Homo sapiens: one gene and its partners. The protein of the gene in region 4 purifies or fractionates together with the protein of the main gene of each other region. This does not show direct contact. Each region holds a gene or a part of one and is shown on either strand. Other genes may lie near its edges. The genes, in order: ANAPC1, CSNK1G1, DAAM1 and CIMAP3.

Region 1 (7,032 bases), on a different chromosome or scaffold from region 4:
GGTTCAAGCGATTATCTTGCTTCAGCCTCCCAAGTAGCTGGGATTACAGGCATGTGCCACCACACTCAGCTAATTTTGTATTTTTAGTAGAGACGTAGTTTCACCATGTTGGTCAGGCTGGTCTTGAACTCCTGACCTCAGGTGATCCACCCACCTCGGCCTCCCAAAGTGCTGGGATTACATCGTGAGCCACCGCACCCAACATAAGAATGGTTTTTACCTTTTAAAGGGTTGTAGGAAATAACAAAGATTATGTGATAGAGTCAGTATGTGGACAGCAAACTGCCCTATTTAGTCTTTGATCTTTTACAGAAAAAGTTCAAATTTTATGTTGTTACTAATTGCAGACAACCCGAATAAACATACTAGAGCCTGGGATTAAATGGCACGCAGCCTTTTTTTTTTTTTTTTTTAAGTACAATTTCCATTTTATTTTTTCTCTGGAGAATAGTCTGTTTTTAGTCGTTTTATTTTCATTTTTTTTTTTTTTGAGACGGAGTCTCGCTTTGTTACCCAGGCTGCAGTGCAATGGCACGATCTCGGCTCACTGCAGCCTCTGCCTCCCAGGTTCAAGCGATTCTCCTGTCTCAGCCTCCCTAGTAGCTGGGATTAGGGGTGTGCCATCACGCCCAGCTAATTTTTTGTATTTTAGTAGAGATGGGGTTTCACCCTGTTGCCCAGGCTGATCTCGAACTCCTGAGCTCAGGCAATCCACCCACCTCGGCCTCCCAAAGTGCTAGGATTACAGACATGAGCCACCACGCCTGGCCTTGTCTTCAGTGTTGAAGGACTCAGCTCCTTACATGGGCTTTGGTGGGTGTGTTTGGTCCTTGTGGGCTTTACAAGGTGGATTCCTGACGACTTTTCTGTGAATTGCACATCTCACACAGTAATTTAGCTTCACATACAGCTTGGGAAGCACATAGGCATTGAAGACACTCGCTTCACAAATGTCCCTGACTGCTGCGGCCTCCACCACATTTCGAATGATGAATTTTTTTTTTTTTTTTGAGACAGAGTCTCGCTCTGTTGCCCAGGCTGGAGTGCAGTGGCGGGATCTGGGCTCACTGCAAGCTCCACCTTCCAGGTTCACATCATTCTCCTCCCTCAGCCTCCCGAGTAGCTGGGACTACAGGGGCCCGCCACCATGACCCGCTAATTTTTTTTATTTTAGTAGAGACGGGGTTTCACTGTGTTAGTCAGGATGGTCTCGATCTCCTGACCTCGTGAGCCGCCTGACTCAGCCTCCCAAAGTGCTGGGATTACAGGCGTTAGCCACCTGCCCAGCCTCGAATGATGAAATTTCTTAATGGCCTTGTCCTTGGGCACACGTCGGGCACAGTTTGTGCAACGAATAGGCTGCATGTGGCTGTGCCCCTTTTTGGCATGATTGTTGTTCCTTCTTTTCTTTGTCATCTTGGAGGCACGGACTGGAGGGAGGAGTGTAGCCATTATTGATCATATTTTTGACTAATATTTAGTGAACTAGAAGTTGCTTATTTGTGATGTCAAGTAGGATACAAATAACACAGTATGATTATAATTTTGTAAAAATGTATAAAGTGTGTATATATGTATGAAAAAAACCAAAAATTCTCTAATGTATTAATAGTAGATATTTTGAGATGGTGGCATGATTTTTATTTATAAAGTATTTCTTATGATTATAGAATCATATTTTAAAATTTTTCAGTATTTTAACTGAGTGGGAAACATTTCCTGTCAAATAAGGATATGGAGACCAGTCCATGGTACTTTAGATTAAAAGCTGAACTCACTGGGAAAAACCTTATTTTGCATGTGTAACTAGTAAAGCAGAAACAACAGTGTACTGTTCGGCACTGTCTGAATAGTAATTATAGAGTACAGCTTTCATACAGAAAAACAGAACCAATAAGGAAGTCAAACTTGGCAGAATAGTTGAGTGCAATTTATAAATAAGTCAGTTGAAGAAATCATCGACCTTTTACCTGTGGCTGATTCGTGTAATGGTGAGAGTCAGCACAAATCTTAACATTTAGCAACAGCATGTATGTGAAGCTAAAACTTGTAATGCTCTCATCTTTAATGTATTTTAAGGAAGTTGATGCCTAAAGTAAATTTATTAAAAATTCAGAGTTAATTATTTAAGATAGTAATAAATTTTGTGCTCTCTTTGGCTTGGTTGTTCTTTATCTTTAACAATTTTAAGAGCTCTGTTCATAAATATCAGTCTTGTAAAGCCCATTGTTCTATACCTGATTTTTCTATTTTATTTTTAAGGTCTTTTTGGTTCATCACGGGTGCAATATGTTGTAGATCATGCAATGAAAATTGTTTTCCTCAATACTGACCCCTCTATTGTAATGACTTATGATGCTGTTCAAAATGTGCATTCTGTGTGGACTCTCCGGAGAGTCAAATCAGAGGTAAGGAGAAAGGCAAGTCACTTCTCCTTAATAGGAAAGGGTAGGCTGGGTGCACTGGCTCACACCTGTAATCCTAGCATTTTGGGAGGCCAAGGCAGGCGGATCACTTGAGGTCAGGACGTTCAAGACCAGCCTGGCCAACATGGTGAAACCCCATCTATACCAAAAATATAAAAAATTAGCCAGGTGTGGTGGCTTCTGTAATCCTATCTACTCGGGAGGCTGAGGCAGGAGAATCACTTGAACCTGGGAGGTGTAGGTTGCCGTGAGCCAAGATCATGCCACTGCACTCCAGCCTGGGTCACAGAATGAGACTCCATCTCAAAAAAAAAAAAAAAAAAAGTATATATATATATGAAAGAGTAGTTAATACTTCATACCCTCACTTTTTTTTTTTTTTTTTGGAAAAATCACTTGTGAATAGTTTTATTATCATCATCATCATCATCATCATCATCATCATCATCATCATCATCTCTAGAGACAGGGCCTCACTCTGTCACCCAGGCTGAAGTATAATGGCACAATTACAGTTCACTGCAGCCTTGAACTCCTGGGCTCAAGTGATCCTCCTGCCTCAGCCTTCCGAATAGCTAGGACTACAAATGTGTACCACCACTCCCAGCTAATTTTTAATTTTTTGTAGAGATGGGATCTTGCTATGTTGCCCAGGCTGGTCTTGAATTCCTTGGCTCAAGCTATCCTCTCTCCTCACCCTCCCAAAGTGCTGGGATTATAGATGTAAGCCACGGCACCTGGCCTCATTTGAGAAATAGATTGAGCTTCTTAGGAAAGAAGAAATACTGTGTCTTTAGTAACTGACTTCAACTTGCATTCTTACAAGGAAATTGCTACTTTATTCTAATTATTGTTTTTTTTTTTTTCCTCTTTCTCTTTATTTTGACTTAAGGAAGAGAATGTTGTTTTAAAGTTCTCTGAACAGGGGGGAACCCCACAGAATGTGGCCACTAGCAGCTCCCTCACAGCACATCTCAGAAGCCTCTCCAAAGGAGATTCCCCTGTGACTTCACCTTTCCAGAATTACTCCTCCATTCACAGCCAGAGTCGCTCAACCTCATCACCCAGTCTACATTCTCGCTCACCTTCTATTTCCAACATGGCAGCTCTAAGGTATAAGGGTTTCCTGGTTTTTCTTTCTAAGCTTTCTGTTTTGTTTTGAAGGATTTAGAATTTCTGTTGACAGCTGTTTTTAGGGGAAATATATTTAGGGGAGATGTTTTTTAGGGGAAATAGCCATTATCCCAATTGAGCCTTTTTTTTTTTTTTTTTTTTTGAGACGGAGTCTTGCTGTGTCACCCAGGCTGGTGTGCAGTGGCGCAATCTTGACTCACTGCAAACTCTGCCTCCCGGGTTCATGCCATTCTCCTGCCTCAGCCTCCAGCTGGGACTACAGGCGCCTGCCACCATGCCTGGCTGAGTTTTTTTTTTTTTTGTATTTTTAGTAGAGATGGGGTTTCACCGTGTTAGCCAGGATGGTCTCGATCTCCTGACCTTGTGATCTGCCTGCCTTGGCCTCCCAAAGTGCGGGGATTACAGGCGTGAGCCACCGTGCTCAGCCCTGAGCCACTTTTACTAAGATTTCTAAGTTTACCATGTCACATTCTTTCCTGAGTCATATTTTGAAGCTGCCTATGCTTGACCTAAGGTTAGTTGCCTCATTTCTACCACTATGTGGGCAACAGTTTGATGAATATTAATTCCCAAAATACTGTGGCACTATTTTATTTTTGCCTTAATTTATGTTAGTTTTTCTTTTTTTTTTACTTGTTATTTGATATGTAAATGTATCTATTTCTCTATATAGATATATATTTAAATGACCAGATATGTATATCTGGTGCTACAGGGACATTGTTTTGTTGATAAATATATATGTCTGACTATACAGGGACATAGTTTAGAGCTTTTTGAATAATCATTCATTTTCCGAAAAAGAAGATGATCTAAGTTTTAGTTGTAAAAGATGAGTTCTTCTAATAATAATTCTAAATCTTTAGAATATAGTAAAGCACATTGACATGAACCATTTAAATAGCTACTCCTTTTTGAAAAATTTTAATTTCTGACCTGGATTATGCCATGAATGCTCTTCTGTCTGTGGAATTTTTGGAAGTGTCATTGGAGTGTGTGTCATATAAGCCTGCCTTGCTAACTGTGATGTACTCTCTCCTCTGTTTATTTTGCAGTCGTGCTCATTCTCCTGCGTTAGGAGTGCACTCTTTTTCAGGGGTGCAAAGGTTCAACATTTCAAGCCATAATCAGTCTCCAAAGAGACATAGTATTTCTCATTCTCCAAATAGTAATTCTAATGGCTCCTTTCTTGCACCAGAAACGGAGCCAATTGTTCCTGAACTGTGTATTGACCATTTGTGGACAGAAACGATTACTAATATAAGGTTTGTTATATATATTATTATATTCAAAGAAAAATGTTGCTGAAAGTCTTGGGAAATATATGGCATTTTGTTTAAAGTTTCCTTTTAATGTGATCAGTTATTAATATATGTAAAAATATATAGAGATATGTATTAAGGCCACCTCAGTTTCAGTAGAGGATATTAATGATATTAAAGTGATCATAGGCTGGACGTGGTGGTTCATGCCTGTAATCCCAGCACTTTGGGAGGCTGAAGCTGGTAGATCACTTGAGCCTAGGAGTTCGAGACCAGCCTGGCCAACATTGTGAAACCCTGTCTCTACTAAAAATACAAAAATTAACTGGGTGTGGTGGTGCATACTTGTAATCCCAGCTACTCAGGTGGCTGAGGCAGAATTGCTTGAACCCAGGAGGCTGAGCTTGCAGTGAGCTGAGATCGTGCCACTGCACTCCAGCCTGGGTGACAGAGTGAGACTATCTCAAAAAAAAAAAGTCATCATAAAAATATTATTTTGTCATCTGATATTTCTTCCTTTATAGTAATAATCTCTCATTTTTCGGGTGTTTTTTGTTCTGGGGAGAAACAGTTAATTTCCATCCGTGAGGAAATGTGGGGTTTTAGCACGTTTCCTAAGTTTTATGTTCATGTTAGTTGAGTGCCAGCTTTACTTTTTGGGAAACATAGCTTAGATCTCTGTTCTGGGTGACCTTTCTTCTTTTATATTCTCTTTAATAATTCACGTGTTAATTTATATGCCAATGTGTGTGCTAGTTAACAGTCTAATAAGTCACTGTCCCTGTCCTCAAAAGAGGCAGATAGCTGAAGGATGGTGACACAGGAGGGACTACTTTTGCTGGTAGGGCTTTGAAAGACGAATAGGTATTCGCTAGGCAGGGAAGTTGAGAAAGACCACAGACGGCAGCTGGGATCAGAACAAAAGTTCTGGTGAGTGCGTGGTGTATTTAGGGAATTACAAGTACTTCCACTCTGGTTTTTGCAGAGGGGAGGGAAAAGGCTAATGAAGAGGAGGCTTCCTAGGCGCAGTGGCTCACACCTGTAATCACTCACTTTGGGAGGCTGAGGCAGATGGATCACTTGAGCTCAGGAGTTCAAGACCAACCTGCCCAAAATGGTGAAACCCCATGTCTACTACAAATACAAAAATTAGCCAGGCATGATGGCGTGCATCTGTAGTCCCAGCTACTCTGGAGGCTGAGGTGAGAGAGTCATTTGAACCTGGGAGTTGGAGGTTGCAGTGAGCCAAGAGCACACTACTGCACTCCAGCTTGGGCAACAGAGTGAGACTGTCTGAAAAAGAAAAAAAGGAGGCTTGAGAGATTACTGATTGCCCTTTAGGCCTCTGGTATGTTTGATGACAGCGGTAAGAAGGCACTTTATAAGTGTGTCGGAAGTTTGGGAAAGAGCAGAACAATAAATGTGGAATTGTCAGCTTATAGGTGGTGATTGAGGTAAGAGAATTAGATTAGAATTGAAGAATTATTGTATTCAATAATTGTGTGTACATGTAGTATATAGGCCTTTTCCCAAGGAGAGGGTTTTAACATTCCTTAGATTCTCAAAGGGATTTGTGGCCTCCAAATAGTTAAAATCCAGTGGTGTAGAATGAGAAGAGGGCTAGGAACTGAAGTCCTGGAAACTTAAGATTTGGGGAATGGAAAGAGACAAAGCTGGCACAGAGAGACAAAGCAAAAGAGGTCAGATGGGAGAAGCAGCAGGAAATACAGAATACAAAAAAGAACATTTCAAGAATACAGAGATGCCAGTATTGCCAGGTACTGGTGAAGTGTGGCCCTGAGAGTTGAACCCAGAGAGGAGGTACCTGGGTGGCAGTGGGTTCCTTGGTGACCTTGGCCAGAGCATTTTAAGCTGGGAGGGTGGCGGGGGAAAGTGGGGTAGAAAAAGTAAATGGGGACTGAGGAAATGAACATAGGCATACAGACTCTTTAAGGAGTTTGCCTTTGAATAGGAATGAAGATACAAAATTAGAGGGAGTCTTGGTCAAGGAGAGTTTTGTTTTTGCTGAACTATAATAAAATTAGTTTTCATGACATCTTGCCCCAGTATTTTCTTTTTCTTTTTTTTTGAAACAGGGTCTCACTCTGTCACCCAGGTTGGAGTACAGTGAGTGACTCAATCACAGCTCACTGCAGCCTTGGCCTTCTGGGCTCAGGTGATTCCCCAACCTCAGCCTCCCAGATAGCTGG
Region 2 (7,499 bases), on a different chromosome or scaffold from region 4:
TGAATTGCAAACTTTGTATTCTCACAAACATCTATTATTACAGGAAGTTATTTGATTTTTGTCCTCTGAGTATAAATTACATTTGAAAATAACTAACTATAAGTCACCTCAAAAAGCAAACTACGTTAGCTGAAAATCTGACATATAATAGGTGACACATAACTATATTATTTTAAATCCACAAAACAAATGAGTATAAAGACTTTGGCCGGGTACGGTGGCTCATGCCTGTAATCCCAGCACTTTGGGAGGCTGAGGCGGGTGGATCACGAGGTCAGGAGATAGACACCATCCTGGCTAACATGATGACACTTCGTCTCTACTAAAAATACAAAAAAATTAGCTGGATGTGGTGGCATGTGCCTGTAATCCCAGCTACTCAGGAGGCTGAGGCAGGAGAATTGCTTGAACCTGGGAGGTGGAGGTTTCAGTGAGCCGAGATCGTGCCACCACACTCCAGCCTGGGTGACAGAGTGAGACTCCATTTCAAAAAAAAAAAAAAAAAAGAAAGAAAAAGACTTCATGGGCTGGGTGAGGTGGCTCACACCTGTAATCTCAACACTTTGGGAGGGCGACGCAGGAGGTTTGCTTGAACCCAGGAGTTTGAGGCTGCAGTGAGTATAATTGCCCCAGTGCATTCATTCTGGCCTAAGTGACAGAGAAAGACCTTGTCACTAAAAATAAATAAAAAACAGACTTCATGTTTCTTGGATTTATTTCTATATCGTAATAAGGAATGATTTAAAGGCAGAAATGTATTCGATTTTGTTTTCTGAATATTATATAAGTTTTTCTAGTAGCATAAATCTAACTGAGATGAGAGGTGCTGCTGATGCTGCTGATTTTTATCTTAAAATTACAAGTAGGCCGGGCACGGTGGCTCACACCTGTAATCCCAGCACTTTGGGAGACCAAGGCGGATGGATTACAAGGTCAGGAGTTCAAGACCAACCTGACCAACATGGTAAAACCCTCTCTCTACTAAAAATACAAAAAATTAGCTGGGTGTAGTGGCAGGCGCCTGTGATCCCAGCTACTCAGGAGGCTGAGGCAGGAGAATCGCTTGAATCCTGGAGGTAGAGGTTGCACTGAGCCGAGATCGTGCCACTGCACTCCAGCCTGGGTGATAGAGCAAGACTCTGTCTCAAACAAACAAACAAACAAACAAAAAACAAGTACCTTCTATTTTACACCCCAATTTTAATTCTCTTTAAAGAGACATGTGATGTTAAGATTTACATACATTACTTTTTCATGTATTTCGTGTTAATCCATACTATAAACACCAATATGGTGTAGCTGAGAAAAATCTATAAAATATATTTTGCTCATTTCAATAAATGGGCCATATTCTACTTTATTATTTTGAATTTTAAGAAACTACTGATAACTGAATTTCATGCTACCTACGATCAATTTCGAGAAGACACTGAAAGTCCTATTGTATGCATTTTTTTTTCAAAATTATCCGGTTGCTTTCCTATCTCAAACCTCGTTTCACAAAACTGGGCTGCCTTGACTGTGTATGATTAATGGTAATAATTTATCTTCTAATTCAAAGGTGGTTCCGTTTAAAATGGGATGTTACTTATAATACAGGTAAGAATTTTAACTCATACTACTTATGAAGAAACAAAAGCTCTGGTAGGTTCCATGACTTGCCCAAGGTCAGTAACTAGCAACTGGCATAGTCTAGGTTCAACCCAAGATTTATCTGCCTGAAAGTCAATACTTCCACTTGACCGCAATTATCTCCTTAAAAGATTAAGACACAGGCTCAACAGCAGAACATTCATTCTCTCTCTGAAAATTCACATATCTGTTCTGAGACATCACTACACAGCACCTAGTATTCAGTCACTGATTGAAACAAAAATGAAGAGGATCTTTCTACTTCATTTAAATTAGGACAGGTTTACTGGCAGGTAAGAAAGAGGCTGCAAAAGCCTTGCCTCAACATGTCTTGCCTAGACCTGTGATACATCTATATGGTTTCCCCAGTCCATTCTTTTTAAATAAACACGTACATCTACTACACAAGACTACACCTGGACTAGCCTATTGTTAAATGCTTTTCAGAATTCCACTTTTCTAAGGTAATTTATACCGGAATTAATATCGAGCTGGGAGACTTGGTTGAATATGTCATTCAGGCACTTTCCAAACATCTTAAGTGTCATTTAGGGGCAACAAACCCAGTTCCACTCTCTTTTACATTGTGATGCCTGCCCACTTGGGGGACATTGCTCCTGTAGGACGTGGGGGCGAGGAAACAGTAAAGGAAGAAGTGGGGGAAGCGTACGGAAGTTGGGTAGAGGAAAGTCTCATTACCCACTCTTGTGCCCTAAGCTCCGCCAAGGGCGGCTCCCCGCGGTACCCAGTCGACTCAGAACCCCCACAACCTTCGAAGTCCAGCTCTGTCCCAGCGGGGTGGGTAGGGAAAGAGGGCAATGGAAGCACGGGATAGCCCCAGTCACCCTGACGAGATCTGTGCCCTCCTTTTGGCTCCCGGGGGATGCTCCCCCTTTCAGAGTAAGCCCTCCAGGTGGCAAACTCCCGGTCCACACCGGCTAGAGTCAGTTTCTCGGAAGGGGCGCCTCCTCCGCCTACCTCTACCCCGCTAACCGAAACTCTCCACCCGCTGTGTCCCTCAGCCCCTCCATTCCGCCCCCGCAACCCTCCACAGACACAAACGCCAGCCTGCGCCCCACCCGGGATCACGGCGTCCCCCACCCACGCCCAGGAAAGGGCCCCCCACCAACCCCCTCAGACACACACACACCCCCTCAGACTTCAGCCTACAGAACCCCGACGAAGCCGGGCAGATACCTGGTCCAGCAGTGCTGCAAGGCGCAAATGAGGCGGGCGCGGTCCCCTCCCCGAGGCGCCAAGTGCTTCTCTACCCACCCGCAGCGGTGGTTTCTCTCTTTCCCAGGAGCGGGAGGGAGGGGAGAAGGCGGACGGGAGGGGGAAGGCGAGGAGCCGAGGGGCGGCTGGAGCCGAACCGGAACCACTAGCGCGGCCCCGCCCTCGTCCCGGAGTCGCAGAGTACCCTGGCGGGCCTAATAGGACAAACTTTGGGCAGGCAGCGTTAAACTGACACCATCACTTCCGGGTTATCCCCACGGCTGCCCCCTCCTTAGCAACCGCGTGGGGTTGCTAAGCGGAAGTGCCTTCAAAGCAACCCACCCCCATTTCTTCTGGGACTACCAGAAGATATATCGGGAGCACTGAGCTCTGCTTTGGCAACACGCTCTTACCTTCTGCTCAAGATCTTAGACCAAGTACACGCTTCGCTGCCAGAGGCACGAAACCCATCCCGCTTTTCCCTTCAACTGTACTCCTCCACCAAGCCCCCGTCTCTATATACTCCTGCTCCCTCCCACCCTTAATCCCGTGGCTGACCCAGTGGCTGTTCCTAAGGCTCCAGGCTCCTCTCTCAGGTCCCTCGAGGGAATTATTTTCTGACGGTTTAGCAAGCATCTCCCTCTTGTGGATTTTTAATTGTGTTTCAACCAGATTTTTAAAATTTCTTTCAATGTTGTGAAAGGTTTTTCATGCACTTAGTTCTCCTGTGACAGCCCATGAAGCCGAATGGTTAGAAAAATGTTGTCTTCACCTACATTTTGTAAGAGCTGCACATGTTTGTGTAAGGTCTGGAATTAACCTAGCCAAATGGAATAGGCAAAAAAGATTCAATGTAACTCGACAGTTATTTTAATCCTTAAAACAGAGAGCAGGGCACATGTTCTCAGGACCTCTTGAGACTGCGCCTCGGGGGCGGGGTGGTGGTGGAAAAAAGACAGAAAACAAAGAAAAAGGCTAAAGGGAGCCCATAATCAAATTTGGGAAGGAAGAAGACTGTCTAATCCTCCACTCAAAACTCAAAATATGCCGGGTGCGGTGGCTCACACCTGTAATCCCAACACTTTGGGAAGCCGAGACTGGCGGATCACGAGGTCAGGAGATGGAGACCATCCTGGCCAACATGGTGAAACTCCGTCTCTACTAAAAATACAAAAATTGGCCGGGCGCGGTGGCTCGCGCCTGTAGTCCTCCTGTAAGCACTTTGGGAGGCCGAGGCGGGCAGATCACGAGGTCAGGAGATGGAGACCATCCTGGCCAACATGGTGAAACCCCGTCTCTACTAAAATACAAAAAATTGGCTGGGGGTGGTGGCACGTGCCTGTAGTCCCAGTTACACGGGAGGCTGAAGCAGGGGAATTGCTTGAACCCGGGAGGCGGAGATTGCAGTGAGCCGAGATCGTGCCATTGCACTCCAATGGCACTCCAGCCTGATGACAGAGCGAGACTCCGTCTCAAAAATAATAATAAATAAATAAACAAACAAACAAAAATTAGCTGGGCGTGGTGGCGTGTGCCTGTAGTCCCAGCTACTCGGGAGACTGAGGCAGGAGAATCGCGGGAACCCGGGAGGCGGAGGTTGCAGTGAGCCGAGACCGCGCCACTGCCCTGCAGCATGGAGACAGAGCTAGACTCCGTCTAAAAAAAAAAAAAAAAACCTTCAAAATAAACTTTCATACCGACACTATGGATAAGAAAAGAGACCTCATTTATTGTGTCTGGGTGATTTGGGGTTTGAAAATATTGGGAAAATGAATGGTTGGGGTAAAAGTTAACAAAGTAATACTCGAAAAAAACAACTCGTATCTGGAGGCTGGGTGCGGTGGCTCACGCCTGTAATCTCAGCACTTTGGGAAGCCGAGGCCTGAGGATCACCTGAGGTAAGGAGTTCGAGACCAGCCTGGCCAAACTGGTGAAACCCTGTCTCTATTAAAAATAGAAAAATTAGCTGGGCGTGGTGGTGGGCACCTGTGATCCCACCTACTCGGGAGGCTGAGGCATGAGAATCATTTGAACCCAGAAGGCAGACGTTGCAGTGAGCCGAGATTGCGCCATTGCACTCCAGCCTGGGCAACAGAGCGAGACTCCGTTTCAGAAAAAAGAAAAAAAAAAAAAAAAGGAAAAGAACCCATATCGTTATGGCAGGTAAAATATTCAGAGAAATGCAGTTGGGCATTCAGAGAAAAATGAGTAAAAATCTTCATTTGGTTTTCCTATCTTAAATAGGTCTTCTTACAAGCAGAATGCTTAACAGTAGCTCCTAAATTTGTTTTCTATTCCATGGCAGTGAATATACTTGCCACGGCAGGCTCTAATTTTATTGGTCATGATAACCTCTTTATAGACACCAAAATTGAACTGTTATCCACCTTAACTGGGGCAGAGAGGAAATGAGCTTTGGTCACTTAAACGAAACACCACGTCTATTGGTTTCCTGTATGCATGAGACAGGGTTAAATTGATTCACCATAGGCAATCACTTCAGCAAAACCTTTAGGAAATCACTTCAAACTCAAATGGGTCAATAGGATGTTTAATACATCTCCACCTCTGCCATTGACATGAATACATGTGGGAGTATATACACATGCACAATTCAAATGGAATTTCAGCTCATCCACTAATTGTTCCTTTAAAAACCTGGGCGGGATGCAGTGGCTCACACATGTAACCCCAGCACTTTGGGAGGCCAAGGAGGGTGGGTCATCTGAGGTCAGAAGTTTGAGACCAGCCTGGCCAACATGGAGAAACCCCATCTCTACCAAAAATCAAAAAAAAAAAAAAAAAATTAGCCGGGCATGGTGGCAGATGCCTGTAATCCCAGCTACTCGGGAGGCTGAGGCAGGAGAATCGCTTGAACCCAGGAGGCTGAGGTTGCAGTGAGCCAAGATCGTGCCATTGCACTCCAGCCTGAGACAGAGCAAGACTCCGTCTCCAAGAAAAAAAAAAAAAACCTGGCTGAAAGTGACAAGTGGTAAACATGTTACCCTGACAAAACAGAGCTTGGTATTTCAATTGCCAAACAGGTTTAAATATCAAAAAACTTTGAAATAGTAAATAAAATGAGCTCAATGAACAACAATATATCTAAAACTATGATAGACTAGGATGTTTCAAAAAATTAAAACATGATTATGGTAAATAATAAATGTGTTCTATAGAAAGAAATGTTTTATTAAGAAAATCAAGTTATGATTAAATGTGATAGCGTAAGCCAATGTAGAAATGCAAATTCCTATGCATCACTCATTTTACCCACTGCCTGAAGAAAAATGATTTATAAGCAGCATTTGTTTACATCCTCTCTTCCTACAGCTTTTTTAAAAACTCCAGGCACTTTTGTATAGGTGTATGAATAACTGGCTTGACTCCTAATTCATCACATGTCCTCTATTCTATTATTTTCAACATACTCATTGCTTTGAGATCTCTAAAGATAGATAGTACAAACCCCACCTAAAATTAGGTATGTGAGTTTAACTACACTTTTGTAATTTTTGTGGGGAATCCATAGTCTCTCTCTTTTTTTTTTTTCTTTTTAGACAGGGTCTCACTCTGTCACCCAGGCTGGAGTGCAGGCACAATCTTGGCTCACTGCAGCCTTCACCTCGTAGGCTCAAGCGATCCTTCTACCTCAGCCTCCCAAATAGCTGGCACTACAGGCATGCAGTGTGCAGCCACACCCAGCTAATTTTTGTATTTTCTGTAGAGATGGGATCTCACTATGTTGCCCAGGCTGGTCTTGAACTCCTGAGCTTAAGCAATCCGCTTGCCTCAGCCTCCCAAAGTGCCGGGATTATAGCTGTGAACCACCACACCTGGCTAATTTTTGTATTTTTTGTAGAGAAGGGGGTCTCATTCTGTTGCCCAGGCTGGTCTTGAACTCTTGGAGGCCTCAGCCTCCCAAAGTGCTGGGATTACAGGTGTGAACTACCACACCCGGCCATGAATCCATATTCTTTTTTTTTTTTTTTGAGACGGAGTCTCGCTCTGTTGCCCAGGCTGGAGTGCAGTGGCGCGATGTAGGCTCACTGCAAGCTCCGCCTCCTGGGTTCACGCCATTCTCCTGCCTCAGCCTCCCGAGTAGCTGGGACTACAGGTGCCCACCACTACGCCCGGCTAATTTTTTGTATTTTTAGTAGAGATGGGGTTTCACCTTGTTAGCCAGGATGGTCTCGATCTCCTGACCTCGTGATCCGCCCGCCTCAGACTCCCAAAGTGCTGGGATTACAAGCGTGAGCCACCGCGCCCAGCCCATGAATCCATATACTTAATATGAACTATAAGGCAGTGCTCTCAGATCTGGGCCAGATCTCAAATAGCCCTCATTAAGTCAGTACAGTACCTTCATCCTACAGATCAATATGGGACTTCCAAACTTTTCTCCCACTCTCTTGAGCTGTCTTCATTTTTTTTATTGCCCTTGGTAATCATTTAAAAACTTAACATATCTAATGTATATTGGGGAAACCCAATATGCTGTAACTCAATTATTAATATTTAAATACTACTACAGGAATTAATATTTAAATATTGTTAGAGTTACATTGGCATCTTCAAACATAAAATACCAGAACTAGGCCAGGCAGAGTGGCTCATGCCTGTAATCCCAACACTTTGGGAGGCCAAGGTGG
Region 3 (7,032 bases), on a different chromosome or scaffold from region 4:
CAGGGTAACAGGCACTTCATATGTTGTTTGCGGTCCCACCAGCATCCTATGCTGTAAGTGCTATTTATAGATAAGGAGTCTGAGACTCCAGAAAGGTTACCTTGCCCAAGGTTATCTAATTAGGAGGTGGTCATCTAATTGGGAATTTAAATGTATCCGTCTAAGCCCAAAGACTCCTTTCCAATTTGCCTCTCACTAATTCAGTTTTTGAAACCCTGTGGCATGTGAAAGAGCCCTGGTTATCCCACCTTCTCCCCACCCCCAGGCCTAGCAAGCCTGACTTTTCTGAGATGGGATAGGCTTCTGTTTTCTTTAATGTCTTAAGAGTCTGATAAACAGTCCAGGTGGAGAACTGCAGCACTTACTAGTCTGTGAAGCCAGCCTTTTTGGAACAAGTTCAATTACTTTATGTAAGCCTCATTACAAGAATGCTTTGTTCTTTAAAGGACCCCTGAGTGATCTGTTGGCTTTTAAAGAGTGAAAAATAGTATAATAAAGAGTGTGGCCTAACATCTAGAAGGACCTGGGCTTTCTTTATATGTGGTTTCTCCATGCTTTCTCAAGGAGGAAGACTGTGAGGTGAAGTTCAGTATGCTTAGTGGACTGGCTTATTGATTTCCCACCAAAGAAACGATTCAAACGGGAGCTAAGTTCCAGACTCCCAGCAGGAATGACCTCTGGGCCACATTTGTGCCTCTCTGTCAGACCCGCGTGTTCCAATGTACACCTTAGCAGCTTTGACAGAAAGACCCTCTGCAAGGATGCGCTTTGTCCTTTGCCTGCTTCTCATGTGAGCAGGTATTTAGTAAGTGCATAGAGCATTCAAAGAAGCCTCCACAAGGCCTGTGCATACTAGATATTTGGCATAGTAATCATCTTCAGAAATCTAGGCATCTCCCTTATCTACTAAAAGTTGCAAATTAAACCTTCTTCCTAAATGTGAGGCTTGAAAGCTTTAAACTTTGTAGAAATTATTTTATTTTGAAAAGTCACATTTAGAACATCAAGTTCAGCTACATATCCTCAGTTATCTCAGCACGATAAATATAATCTCAGAACCAAATCTGAAAAATCACACATAGAAAATGTTGTAGTCTTTTCTGTTTTGAAAGGTTATGTTCCTTACACAGTATTGGGAAAGGAATTTCCAACTTAATTTTCTTTGACATTTCATAAATCTCCCAACTCTAGTATGGAGAAACTTAATATAGACTGCTGCTATTCAAATGTGCCACCCTCTCCAGGATTTTTAAAAGGATAAATACATGCAGTTTTATTTGTACTAGTGACCCGCAGTAAAATGTGTAGTCATTAATTTGGGGATAGTTTTGTGTCATTAAGCTTAGGAACAAGGAATGATCTTCATAAAAGGCTGGATTCTGAGCTACAGATTCAAAGTGATTGCATAAGAGTCCAAACGAGTTCAGCTATGTCATTGGAGATTAAACGTTCTTGGCTGGATTTGTGTGAGTTTTCCAGGGGATGGGTCTCAGGGAGCTTTGGGAGAATTCATTGGCTGTCTCTGCACCCAGCTTCCTTACTCACCATCCCCTGGTGACAGCTGTCTGTGAGCATCACCAGCAAGAGGACAACTTTGCAGAAACAATAACAAGATTTTAAAGACCGAAAAAACTACTGGGTTTTATTTCAGTTGCCATAAATGATACTGATGTATTATATTTATTTTGCTTTGATCTTTACCCTTCTCATTATGAAATCATATTTAGCTTTTAGTTAACATTAGTTACTTAATGCTGATACTATTGATTGTCACTCTTGATGAGTTATGGTCCTGAAAGAAAGGCTGAGACTGGGTCATTGAGACCCATGGATATGAGTCAAGCTTTTCTTTTTCAATACAGTCACCCCAATCTGTTTCTCAGCCAAGCATTTCTATCAGAATTTGTAATAGGTAAAAAGATTAAACTAGACAAGCGTGTGTTCAGAATAGGATGAAGAAAAGGGACCAGGAGCTCCATGGATGGAGGATCCTGGAGTCATAAGACTTGGGGTACTTTAGTGCAACCAGGTGATCACAGAGTGAAAGGGAATGGAAAGGTCTAGACACCTTACTGGCATTCTCAATTTTATAATAACAACTGCAATCTTACATGGAACCTTGCTTCTGCGGCATCAGCATTGCCTAGAAATTTGTCAGGAATGCAACATCTCAGACCTCACCCCAGACATACCAAACCAGGCTCCATAGTTTAACACTATCCTCAGGTGATTTTCATATCCATATTAAAGTTTGAGAAGCACTGCTCTAGCAGATCCCTGGGTAGAAACACACACACACACACACACACACTCACTCCATATCCTGATTTCTAAATGATGTTGAATAATTTCTAGAAGTTACGCATTTACTCTGAAGGAATTGTCTATCCTAGTAATAGCTCCAAATTAATTTTTCCTCTTAAAAAATAATTAGATGTAACAAAATCCCTTTGGTCTTGATTACACTTTTTGGCTGAGGAATAGGAATGGTAGCATAGGAGGACTGCTGCCCACCTCCTGTTTTTGATAATGTGATGGTATTATTATCTTTAATTGCCAGAATGTTGTATTCAACTACAGGTTCAGTCTTATTTCTATCAAATACAAGTAGTAGTATCTACATCAAAGTGTAATTATAGAATAGTTATACAAGCATTTGGGCAACGTCATCTCTACGAAGATTTCTAAACTTTTCCCTAAGGCTTTATTTAAAATTTGAAAGACTTAACTTACTTAATCATAGATTTGTTGTTTATATTTAAAGTGATAGTGACAAATAATCTGTAGGTTTGTCTTGTTTGTACTGTAATTAAAAAATAGAATTTGAAGAAGTAACTTCTGTTTTCTTTGCATAGAGAAAATCTCTGCTGGCTTTAGAGAAGGAAGAAGAAGAAGAAAGAAGTAAAACTATAGAGAGTTTAAAGACAGCACTGAGGACAAAACCAATGAGGTAATTTTCCCCTGGATGGCATGTTTTTTTTTTTTCTCTCCTTCCTTCCTTTTTTTGCAATAGTCAAACCTTCTAGGAAGTCTTAAGTTAAAACCATAAAATTAAACCATAACATACTTTAATCATTAACATTTAATAAAGTTATTTTCTTCTGTGAAAAGGTATGTAGGCAGCCACTAGGATGGCTAAAAAAAAACAAAACAGAGAGAGACTTTAACAATGGTAAGTTAGTAGACAAGAATGTAGAAAAATTGGGACCCTCATTCATTGCTGCTAGGAATGTAAAATTGTGAAGCCACTTTGGAAAAGGGTTTTAACAGTTTCTCAGAATGTTAAATATAGTGTTGCCATATGACTCAATAATTCTGCTCCTCGGAATGTAGCCAAGGGAAATGAAGACATGTCTCCCAAAAACATGTATGCAGATGTTCATATCGGCATTATTCATGATAGCCAAGAAGTGAAAATAACCCGTATATTGATCAGCTGATGAATGGATAAATGAAATGTTATATATCCACATAATGGAATATAATTTGGCTACAAAAAAAAGGAATGAAGTACTGATACATGCTACAACATGAAATGACCTTGAAATATGCTAAGTGGGAGAAGCCAGTAACAAAGGAGACCACACACTGTATGATTCTATTTATAAGAAATTCCCAGAATAGGCCAATCCATAGAAACAGAAAGTAGATTAGTGGTTGCCAGGAGCTGAGGAAGTGGGGAAAATGTTCTCTTTGGGTGATTAAACTGTTCTAAAATTAGCTAGTGTTGTTGGTCACACAGCTCTGTGAATATACTAAAAGCTACTGAATTGTACACTTTAAAAGGGTGAATTTTATGGCATGTGAATTATTTCTCAATACAAGTATTACTTTTCTTTAAAGATGGGTACACTTTCTGGCAACAGTGATTCATTTCCTCTCTGATAATCAGCTTCTATGTTGTGCCTCCTGCACTTTCATTCCTTTAATGCCTCTAGGATTTGCTGAGATGCTGAGGTTCTTATAAGTACATTACATGAGCACAGGTGCTATGAATGAAGCCAACTGGTTTAACGAGCTTGGCTACATCTGGGTCATGTGGTTGGGTGAAAAGCCTAGAAAATAAAGATTCCCTTTCTTTATTTGACTATAAAATGCAAACTAAGAAAAGTCTGACTCATGAAAAATACTGTGTAGTTATATGACAGAGATCTAGACTATCCTAACTGTATCAGCATTTCTCTCAATATGTTCTGCACTCTCAGATGTTAATCGATATCCAAGCCTAAATAAGTTTGGAAAATTTATCACATAAACAGGTTATGTTACTTCTGAACTTTTCGGTGGCTTTAATATGTACATGTGCATTGTGAGTTAGTCTCATTGATTAACTTAAGTGTAAGAAATATTAATAACGTTAGTATGCAACAATAAAGTATTGCTTTATTATTGTATTCAGTGTACATGGAATATTGAGATTCCATGTAGCATGTCATATAAGAGAAGAATTTTGTCACAAAACCTTAGGGATGTAGATTATCATTTGTTCAACAAGCAAATATCCTGGAATTTAAGGAAGCTTTTGACTTTCATTGATAGGGTGTTTGGGTCAGTGATCAGCACTTAAAAGTGCGTCAGCAATCAACATATAAAAGCGCATGGGCCAGACATGGTCACTCACTATCCCAGCTACTTGGGAGGCTGAGACAGGAGGTTTGCTTGAGGCCACAAGTTCAAGACCAGTCTGGGCAACATAGCAAGTCTCCACCTCTTAAAAAAAAAAGTTAAAAAGAAAAAATTGACTGGGAATGGTGGCACGCACCTGTAGTCCCGGCTACTTGGGAGGCTGGGGTGGAAGGATCACTTGAGCCCAAGAGTTCAAGGCTGCAGTGAGCTATGACAGAGCAAGACCCTGTCTCTCTTAAAGAAAAAAAAAAAAAGGATTGGGGTGGGGGCATGGGAACTGTATGCTAAATAACACAGGAACAGCAGATGGTTTTAATCTAAGACAAGATATGTATTCCGAGTATTCTCTTGCTTCTAATTTTTTATGAATATATGATCTGTTGTTTGGTTCTTTGTACCCATTGAGATATGTTTATCACAAATGGAGGGGTTTTTTTTCACACTTTTGGTTAGAACTGACTATTGGGTCTGTGCCAAGGAAGAGGCAAAGAATTAAAAAGACTTCATCAATGTAAGCCTTTTGGCACTTTAGGAACTAAATCTTTCTTTCCCCTGCCCTCTAGACTTTTCTGTTAGGGGCTATTATAAAACCCAAAGGCACTTAAGCATGGTGCATTTCTCTTCATGACAGGTTTGTAACCAGATTCATCGACTTGGATGGCCTATCATGTATCCTCAACTTTCTAAAGACCATGGACTACGAGACCTCAGAGTCTCGAATACATACTTCTCTCATTGGCTGTATAAAGGCGTTAATGAACAACTCTCAAGGCCGGGCTCACGTCCTGGCTCATTCTGAGAGTATTAATGTAATTGCTCAGAGTCTGAGCACAGAGAACATTAAAACGAAGGTGGCCGTGCTGGAAATCTTGGGCGCCGTGTGCCTGGTTCCCGGGGGCCACAAGAAGGTTCTGCAGGCCATGCTGCACTACCAGAAGTATGCCAGCGAAAGGACCCGCTTTCAGGTGGGTGTTCGCTCAGCCTTCTTCACTCACCCCTTCTTTAAAGTCTGCTCAAACACGTGCTTTTCCTGTCCCTGAAAGGGGAATGTTACTTGAGATGTCCTCTTGTGGTGATTACTCACAGTGTGACTTTAAACATTCCCTTCTTCTTAGGTTTAAGAACCAGAGAATAGAGTATACTTTCAATAGTTGATGAATCTGGGCCTTTAGATTTGCAGAACTTGAAAATGTGGTCTTGCATCCTATATGTCATATAGCACACATCTTTTGAACCCACCAAACTGGGTGTTCCCTGAAAATTTTACAGCTTGCCATTCTTGAATTAGGATCAATATTAATAATTTTTCATATTTCACTATATTACTTGGATGTAAAAAGCAAGCAGAGATAATGAAGCAAAGGCTTTTGTATACATGTATGTATGATGTAAGAATTTTGAAATTAGAGTTTTTAGGACTGTTCTTAAGGAGAAAAAGGGTGGCTTTCTATGGGTCAGTGTAATCCTGTCTAAACGTAAGATTTTAAAAGTTAACTTTTTGGTGGCTCACACCTCTAATCCCAGCACTTTGGGAGGCTGAGGCAGGCGGATCGCAAGGTCAGGAGATCGAGACTGTCCTGGCTAACACAGTGAAACCCCGTCTCTACTAAAAATACAAAAAATTAGCTGGGTGTGATGGTGGGCGCCTGTAGTCCCAGCTACTCGGGAGGCTGAGGCAAGAGAATGGCGTGAACCCGGGAGGTGGAGGTTGCCGTGAGCTGAGATCATGCCACCGCACTCCAGCCTGGGCAACAGAGCAAGACTCCGTCTGAAAAAAAAAAAAAGTTAACTTTTGAGTATAAAAAAATTCATAAAATGAGCATAAGGTTAGTAACGTTTCAGTCCTTTGTTTTTCTATTTTTGATAGACATTAATTAACGACTTGGATAAAAGCACTGGGCGGTATCGAGATGAAGTGAGTCTCAAGACTGCCATCATGTCCTTCATTAATGCAGTGCTCAGCCAAGGTGCAGGAGTGGTAAGAACCTTCTACAAATTAAAAATATATTAGTAAATAATAATTTATAAAAAGTGATTATTATGTAGTCTAAAAACCACAAATATGTATTTTATTGCCATTTTACTTTCAGGAGAGTTTGGACTTTAGACTTCATCTTCGCTATGAATTTCTGATGTTAGGAATTCAACCTGTAATAGATAAATTAAGGGAACACGAAAATTCAACATTAGATAGGTAAGTCAGACTATTATGATGTGAGAAAGTTTCTGTGTTTCCCATCTGTGTAATGCAATACCTCATCAAGTGCTGGCCTGTGGTTACTTGTGCCCTGTCTGTAACATAAAGAGCTTGTATCAGAATGTTAGTTCAGCTAATGATGTTTTCATAGTAAGACTTTGTTGATGAGGGAAGCAGCACATTATGTAGAGAACTTAATGTGGGTTTTA
Region 4 (7,569 bases):
AAACACCTATGTACAGTAAGGTCTGACAACATTAAATAGATATGACTCAAATAAGACTACCCCAAGGAATAAACTCTCAAAGGTCAAGGAGAAAGAGACGATCCTAAAAGCGGCAAGAGAAAAGAAGCAAATAACATATAAGGATCCCCAATTCATCCAGCAACAGATTCCTCAATGGAAACTATACAGGCTAGGAGTAAGTGTAATGACATTTTCAAAGTGCTGAAAGAAAAAAACTGCCAGCTAAGAATACCGTATCCAGGTGGCCATGTCTAAGTTCTGTACATGAGTGGAAATGATGTGTCCAACTTTCAGGCCTTGCCTTCCTGGTCCCTTTCTCTTTCCACAAACTGAGACCTAGCAAGAGCATCAGCCTTGGAGCCAAAAGTGGAACCCCTTGTTGAGATATCCCTTGTTGAGATAAATTCTTAGTGTGAGAAGGCCAGCTAGGGGTTTGTGCCCAGGAGACCTGTGGGATGAACTTCCTACAGCTTTGCACTGCTGAACAGCCACTCTGATTTGGCATCTCCTTTAGCTGAGTTACAGAGTTTTCAGGGCTGGTTAGGTAATCCTGCCTCCTCCCTTTGCCTCTGCCTGTTTTCAGGTATATTTCTCCCCCCAGGCACTGTGATGCTTCCTGTGGGTTAAGGCAGGGGCAGATCTTCTGCAAGGAAACCCAAGATAGTGGGAAAACTGGTTGTCCATCTCAGTATCACTTTTTCCAATGTAGAAACTGAACTGGAGGAAAATTTTCCACATGCTTGTTCTGGGCAGAATGGCAGGAGAGGTGCCACAGATGTGGAAGTCCAATTCTCTTACCGTCTGCTTGGAATTTTTTCACTTCTCGTGGCCCTGGCAACTGTTTTCATATTTGAATTCTGGGATATTGTTGGTGATAATCCCAGTGCTGTATATCTGGTTTTGGTTTTCTAGAGAAGGCAAAGGGTGAAGCCAGTTTGCTTCTATGCTGCTATTTTGGAACTGGAAGTCCATTCATTCACTTTTTTCAGCTTTTCTAATCTGCTGTTAAACCCATACATTGAATTATTATTTTCAGCAACAATACTTTTTACTTCTACAATTTTATTTGATTCATTTACTGTTTCTAAATTCATCTTGTCATTTAATTTCTTAAATATGGTAATCAGCTTTTCCTCTGTGTTGAATTGATTATTATTTAATTCAATAATTTTAAAATGAGACAAATCTATTTAAAACATTATACAAAAAATTGAATCTACTTATCCTCATTAAATTAGACCATTGCAACAGAGCAAGTAATTCCCTGGAATAATAATAATTCTTATATGTCCTCAGAGACAGTCAAGTGAGAAAAGCCATTAACTGTCTCATAAAGCTATAACAGTCTCCATAAACATCTGGCATCCTCTTGATACTATAAAATGTGCATGATGGAAACTACTGAATTCTTAAGGTCTTCATCAAAACTGGCTACACTATAAAACTTTGTCTAAGTACTCCCTGGTACTAGCAGACACCTGCATGAGTTCCTTTGTGCATGGTCATCATTCAAAAACTGGCCTTTTGGCAATTCTTAGAGCTACCTGAAATTCTGCATTAGCCTATTATCATTACACAGATGGTTATACAGGAGATACACATGACATATAGACAGTCTGTCTTTGACTATACGATGTTCGGTCTGGCTTTACTGAAAAGTTGATAAATTTTGCATCACTCAGGATGTAGATGGGCCCAGTTAAGTTATGTTGATCACATTGGCAATATGAACAGAGATTGATGGGAAATTTCTCTTTCCTTGAGTATACTGGGATCTTTATTGACTTTGTTTTTAGAGTCTGATCTTTTTCTTTTAGGCTCTTACCTAAGAAGTCAAGCATTTGCTTTATGTTATTTCCTTGCTTTCTTTCGCTTCCCTATGTTCACCTTGCAGTCCTGTTGCTTTCTCCAAAATCTCAAACCAAGTATGGTTATTTTAAAGTCCATGTTTAATGACTCTGATATCTGGATTTTTCTGTGGGTCTGTTTCTACTCTTTTATTATAAGCTCTTGTTTTATATCAAATGCCAAACATTTTGCATGAAAAAAATGTAAAAATTAGTTGAGTCTCTGGATGATATCTTCAGAAAATACTTACTTTTGTTTATTACATGCAATAAGGATAGAAGTGGATCACTTTAATGCAATTGGGAACTGAATTGGTGTAAAGCTGAACTTCAGGGTTTTTTGACAGCTGGTCTATTTCTTGTTTACCCTTATTCCTAGGGTTTATCTCTTTGAAGTTCTGACTTAAACTTCAAACTGTGTTTTCCAGTTTCCCCTTCTCCATGGCCAACCTAAATCTTGTTTCCGAGTTCTCAGAGGCTGTCTAACCAAAGTTCTGCTCAAATCTTCTGCTTCTTAGCCAGCTTTTTATTTAGCAAGCGTTCCAATGGAACAGCAGCACCAAGGTTGAACTCACCACTTTGGGCTTCTCTTCTCTCTGAGATTTTGGTTCTGAATGTTCTTTCTTTCTGGGTATATCTTTGATATCTTCAAACATATATATTTTACTTATTCAATTCACCTGTTCTCAGCTGGAGAATTAGTCTGAAGCAAACCAGTCTACCAAAGTAAGAATGGATTACCACATTTTCAAGAAACTTTGCGAAATACATTTCATGTCACAAATAATGTAAACATTATTTTCAAAAAGCACATTAATACCTACAAATGTTAATATTACCTAAATTATTAATGGAAGTAAAAATCATCAAATCCATACCAATACAGTCATACACCACATGAAGACATTTTGATCAATGATGAACTGTATATACAATGGTGGCTCCCTAAAATTACAATGGAGCAGCCCTATACAGGTGTACCATTTTTAATTTTAAACCATAGTTTTACTGTTCCTTTTCTATGTTTAGGTAAGTTTAGATACATAAATACTTAATATCATGTTACAATTGTCTACAGTATTCAATATGGTAATGTGCTGTACAGGTTTGTAGCCTAGGAGTAAGAGGCCATACTATAAGCCTAGGTGTGTAGTAGGCTATACCATCTAGGTTTGTGTTAAATATAGTCTATGACGTTCGCAAAACAAAGTTGCCTAATGACACATTTCTTAGAAAACATCCTCATCACTAAGTAATGGGTGATTGCATTTCTTTACATTTTATTTACTATCAGTATTATTGCAATTGTATTTTAAGTAGACAAAATGCTTGGAGTAAATTATACAATAATTTTCAGACCCTATCTTTATTCCATTTAAGCTTGGCTCCTCATAACAACCTTTTATATTACTGGGCTTTCTGCATTATTTCCTATAAATTTCTTCACAATGTTAATGTATATAACTACTACTAATTATTTTTGTAGAGTCCAACAGGACATATTTGAATGTCATGTGGGACATGGGACAACTCACTGTATGCCTGGGCAATGCAGTGTAGGATGTCTAGCCTCCCTAGCCTGTTGACCAGGAACAACACCCCAACAATTTTTAACAAGCAAAAATTCTTCCACAAATTTCCAAAACACCCTCTGGGAGTCACTGTCACCTTTTTTGGAAAGTCTACCTTAGATCTATAAAAATCATCCCTGAAGGCTGTCCTAACGCGGAGTATGTGTGGATTCCAGGGTCATCACCTGTAAAGGGTCAAAGTATGGACCAGTCACACTGGGTGTTCTGTTAACCTCTAACACCTGGACAACTCCTAAAGCCATCCTAAAAATCGAGTGAAAACAAGCTAGTGTTAATATCCATGACAAAGGCAAAAAAGACAAAACACACTCTGATCTTTTTTTCTTCGGTTATTATTATCTTCAGTGATAATAACCTGTCGTATGTCACCCACCAAGTACCACGTTCTGAACTGTTTTAATCCCGTCATCTTGATCCTCTCAACAATCCTATATAGAGGAATTTTTATTCCCAATTTAGAGATGAGAAAACTGGGGCTTAGAAATTTGACTGCCCCAACTTCTAAAAAAAAAACTATTAGAGTCTTCTCTGATTCCGTGGCATTCTACCCGGTCCACGCAAGGCCTCCAGTTCTTTTAAAACCTCGCGCCCCCTCCCCACGGCCCCCCGGGATAGAATGGGCAACCTGATTGGAGGGGCTTGAGGAAAAGGAAAAATGGTCTAAGGGCCTAATATGGAACTAGCTGTCAGCTCAACTCCGCCCCCTACTCCTCTGCTGGGGCGTTGCCCAGGGAGTCCACCCCGGTACGCTGCAGCGGCTGTCTTTCTACTTTCACCTTACTTGCTGGTGGCCCAGACTTCGGGACATTCTGAACCTCACTGTCCTTCCCTCTACAACAGCGCATTCCTCTTGGCCCAGCTTCCAAAGCTATTTGCCGCCCCGTCAACCCTGCAGCCCCTACAGCCGCGAATCCAGGAAACCCTCTACCCGCAGCCCAGCTACTGAGTTTACAATCCCCTGGGCTTTGGGCTCCAAGGTGCGGGTTCCTGCCCCAGTAGTGGCTCGGTGGACGCCCCAACTTGCCGCGCAGGCGCGCTCGGGCCCTCTCCCCCTCCCCGCGCTCCGCAGCTGGGAATCACGGGACTAGCCTTCGTTTCCTTGGCAACGCAGTACACAAGTGCTAGCCCTAGCAGCTCGCGATGTGCTTCAGCAGAGCAGGTGAGGAGGGCTGCCGAGAAGCCTAGAGTAGAGGGCAGGTAGGGGGAAGGGTGGGGAAGCTGGGAAAGACGAAGTGGGAGGAAGTGCAGTTCGCCCCCCTCCAGGAGTTTGGCGTGGTTTTGTAAGCGCACGGTTGGGCCCTGTCCTCTGCTCAGTCTCCCCGACCTTCCCCTCCCGGAACGCGCTCACGTAGACCCAGGTGCCGTCCCTCACGTGGAGCCTCTCCTCTTTATTTTAGACGCTGCGGATAACTACCCTTTTGGAACATGTCAACAGAGGAAACTTTTTCCTCACTTCCATCCCCCGAATTTGATTGGGAACAAGTTTGTCCCTCTTAGGGGATCACCCCACAGAGGGCCTGGGTGTTATTTTTCAGATGTGAGTATTCACCTCCCCTTAGATGCTCCTCAGTTCCCCGGCTATTGAGGGATAGCCAAGTTTCCAAGTTTCGTAAAAGAAAAAATTCTGTGGGACTTGAGATCTCCAGAGTCCCAGCATAAGAAAGCGCTCTGTTCTTCTGCAAGCAGCTGTTTCAGCCAATGCCAGAGATTAAAGGATTATTGCTCCCCGCCTTGCACCTCCATTAAACGCAAGCCCTAGCTTCATAAAATCCCTACTCCTTCCTCACTTCCAAAGGCCTCTGAGCCAGTGCCAGTTACCCTCCCATTCCTCCAAACCTCAGGCTGACAGTTGCATTAGAGTAAGTTCAGCTCTGTGGGGCTCCGAAGACTGATGCATTTGAATATATGGCAATGTCCTATAGTCTACGTATCCAGCCACACCCCTCTACAAAGTTACCTGTATTACTTGTGTAATTCTATGGTCTTGACCTCAAAGGAGTCAAGACAATAAAGAATAATCCCTTGCAGAGAAGGTTCAGATGGGAACACACTAAGCTCACTCCATTTCGATGGCCCTGATGTTCTCTGACTATGCGTTGTTTTTTCTTTCTTTTTTTTTTTTTTTGGTGTTTTTGTTTGTTTTTTAATATACCACCCAAAGGGATATGGCTTGGCATACGACTTATCTAAGATCCCAACCAGTATAAAAGGATATACTTTGGGAGCCAGAACAGCTGTGAGGTTTAAGCCAATACAGAAGGTAATGTGCTGGGATTTTAGTGTTATCCACGTTGTTGCATGCATTTGCACAGGAGTGCAAAGGGCAGAGAGCAAGAGGGGGGTGATCTAAAAGAATATGCCCTGAAATTAAAGAAAAGTAGGCATTTAAGCAAAAGCTATTAAGAAGCCTATCTGAAAAGCTTGGGCATTAACATTGCAAATATGCGTGTGAGTGTACCGGGGAGAGTGGAAAACAATTTACTGAAGAAATGGTCCCAACACAGGGCTTTAGTGTTGAGATGCCTGAGGTTAAACATTCGAAGCTTGTGTTTATATACATTATATTGTCTTGTCAGTTAAATAACAAATTCCAACTTTTCCACCCTTTTGTGTGATTGGGTTGCAAGTCTAAAGTTCAGTAGGGGATCCTAATCTCTTATTGGACGACATTTTCCTGACACTTGAGCTTAGGGAGCAGAGATACTATCTCTAAAAATCTCTCAGTGAGGTGTTAAGCATAGTGGCCGTGATAAGTTGCCTTGGTTCTCTACCCATCCTAGATTTATTTCTACAACCTATATATTACGTATCACTAGGTAGCTGAACCACACCCGTATCTCGGTTTTCTACCTACCGAAGACTTATTTCTGTAGCTTGAGGTGGCTGAACCATAGCTGATTTATGAACAGAAAGAGGATGATTCTGTTTTTTCTACCTGGAAGGCTTTATGTGTATATATATACATATCACTCTGTAACATAATGATCTTTTTCTTGGAAACAGGAAATGACACCTCATGCAGGCAGGTACCAGAAAGTAAGTCCTCAGCAGGAAAAACACAAACAAAATTTTGCTCCATTTAATGTCTTGGTGCCTCGATTTAAGAACTACCCAAAGGACACTTACTATCCCAGGTATGTCTCCTCCCTTTTGGTGCACTTCAACAAAAAAAGCAATAGGAGGAAAAGAAGTACGTAATAAAAGAAGCACATAAAGAAGGGATGACATCCAAACCATCGCAGTTAAATAAGGAACCATTCAGAGATTTAATCAATTGTCTCACAGATTTCTGGCATTGTAGAATGTAGAATCATAGTTACTCATTCAATGAATTTTTATTAACATGCCAGGTAGTTTTGTAGGTTCGATAGATTTTTGCACTAAATCCATCACACAAGGCTCCTGATTTCTTGGGGCTTACATTCTAGAGTCCAGACAGAGCACAGGCAAATACACAAGAAAATATCAATAGTGATAGAGTGACCATATAATTTGTTAGTCAAACGATGACACTTCTGAGAGTAAAAGGGGGCCTATTAATAATTCTACCAAGACAGTACCCATAAGGTAGGGACTGTCATGGACAAACCAGGAAGTAGGTTGTCCAGGCTACAAAGAAGGTAAAACAGGATGACAATGTGATAGGGAGTGATGGCCTGGAGTCTACTTTAGAAAGGGTTGAAGAAATGACAGTTAACCTGAGATCTAAATGACAAGACTGAGCCAGCCCTGTGAAGATCTGGGGACCGAGCATTCCCAGCAGAAGGAACAGCAAGTGCAAAGGCTATAAATTGGGAAGGAATTTGACGTGAACAAAAAGGCATGCTGCCATGGCTAGAGTGTAGTGAGCAAGTAGGAAATGAGACAGAAATGGAGGGCATGCTGGAGCACATAGGCCTTGCAGGCCAACAGGCTTATTCTCAATGCTTTAGGAAGCTATTCAGAATGTATAGACTTGTAGGGCAAAAGATCAAGGACTTTCTTTTATTGATGAGAAATCCAAGGATCACAGAGTGATGTAACTTTCTCAAGTTGCATTAAGGAAGTAGAAGCATTGAGTCTTGACCCCCAAGTCCAGTCCATTATTTCCTGACAGTAAAGAGTCCACA

The links.
Region 1: the proteins of CIMAP3 (region 4) and ANAPC1 purify together in Homo sapiens (affinity purification with mass spectrometry; 3 studies listed by BioGRID and IntAct, with this or other methods). This does not show direct contact.
Region 2: the proteins of CIMAP3 (region 4) and CSNK1G1 purify together in Homo sapiens (affinity purification with mass spectrometry; 2 studies listed by BioGRID and IntAct, with this or other methods). This does not show direct contact.
Region 3: the proteins of CIMAP3 (region 4) and DAAM1 purify together in Homo sapiens (affinity purification with mass spectrometry; 3 studies listed by BioGRID and IntAct, with this or other methods). This does not show direct contact.

The regions. Positions count from the first base shown.
Region 1 is NC_000002.12:111,860,182-111,867,213, reverse strand, and holds part of ANAPC1 (anaphase-promoting complex subunit 1), read left to right. Parts: intron 1-2,262; coding exon 2,263-2,408; intron 2,409-3,318; coding exon 3,319-3,539; intron 3,540-4,615; coding exon 4,616-4,825; intron 4,826-7,032. UniProt on the Homo sapiens protein: Component of the anaphase promoting complex/cyclosome (APC/C), a cell cycle-regulated E3 ubiquitin ligase that controls progression through mitosis and the G1 phase of the cell cycle.
Region 2 is NC_000015.10:64,353,159-64,360,657, forward strand, and holds the start of CSNK1G1 (casein kinase I isoform gamma-1), read right to left. Parts: upstream 3,016-7,499; 5' UTR 2,830-3,015; intron 1-2,829.
Region 3 is NC_000014.9:59,317,635-59,324,666, forward strand, and holds part of DAAM1 (disheveled-associated activator of morphogenesis 1), read left to right. Parts: intron 1-2,855; coding exon 2,856-2,950; intron 2,951-5,257; coding exon 5,258-5,591; intron 5,592-6,493; coding exon 6,494-6,604; intron 6,605-6,716; coding exon 6,717-6,820; intron 6,821-7,032. UniProt on the Homo sapiens protein: Binds to disheveled (Dvl) and Rho, and mediates Wnt-induced Dvl-Rho complex formation. May play a role as a scaffolding protein to recruit Rho-GDP and Rho-GEF, thereby enhancing Rho-GTP formation. Can direct nucleation and elongation of new actin filaments.
Region 4 is NC_000001.11:111,342,053-111,349,621, forward strand, and holds the start of CIMAP3 (ciliary microtubule-associated protein 3), read left to right. Parts: upstream 1-4,569; 5' UTR 4,570-4,600; coding exon 4,601-4,619; intron 4,620-4,857; coding exon 4,858-4,997; intron 4,998-5,621; coding exon 5,622-5,720; intron 5,721-6,463; coding exon 6,464-6,594; intron 6,595-7,569. UniProt on the Homo sapiens protein: During primary cilia disassembly, involved in cilia disassembly. Required specifically to control cilia retraction as well as the liberation and duplication of the basal body/centrosome.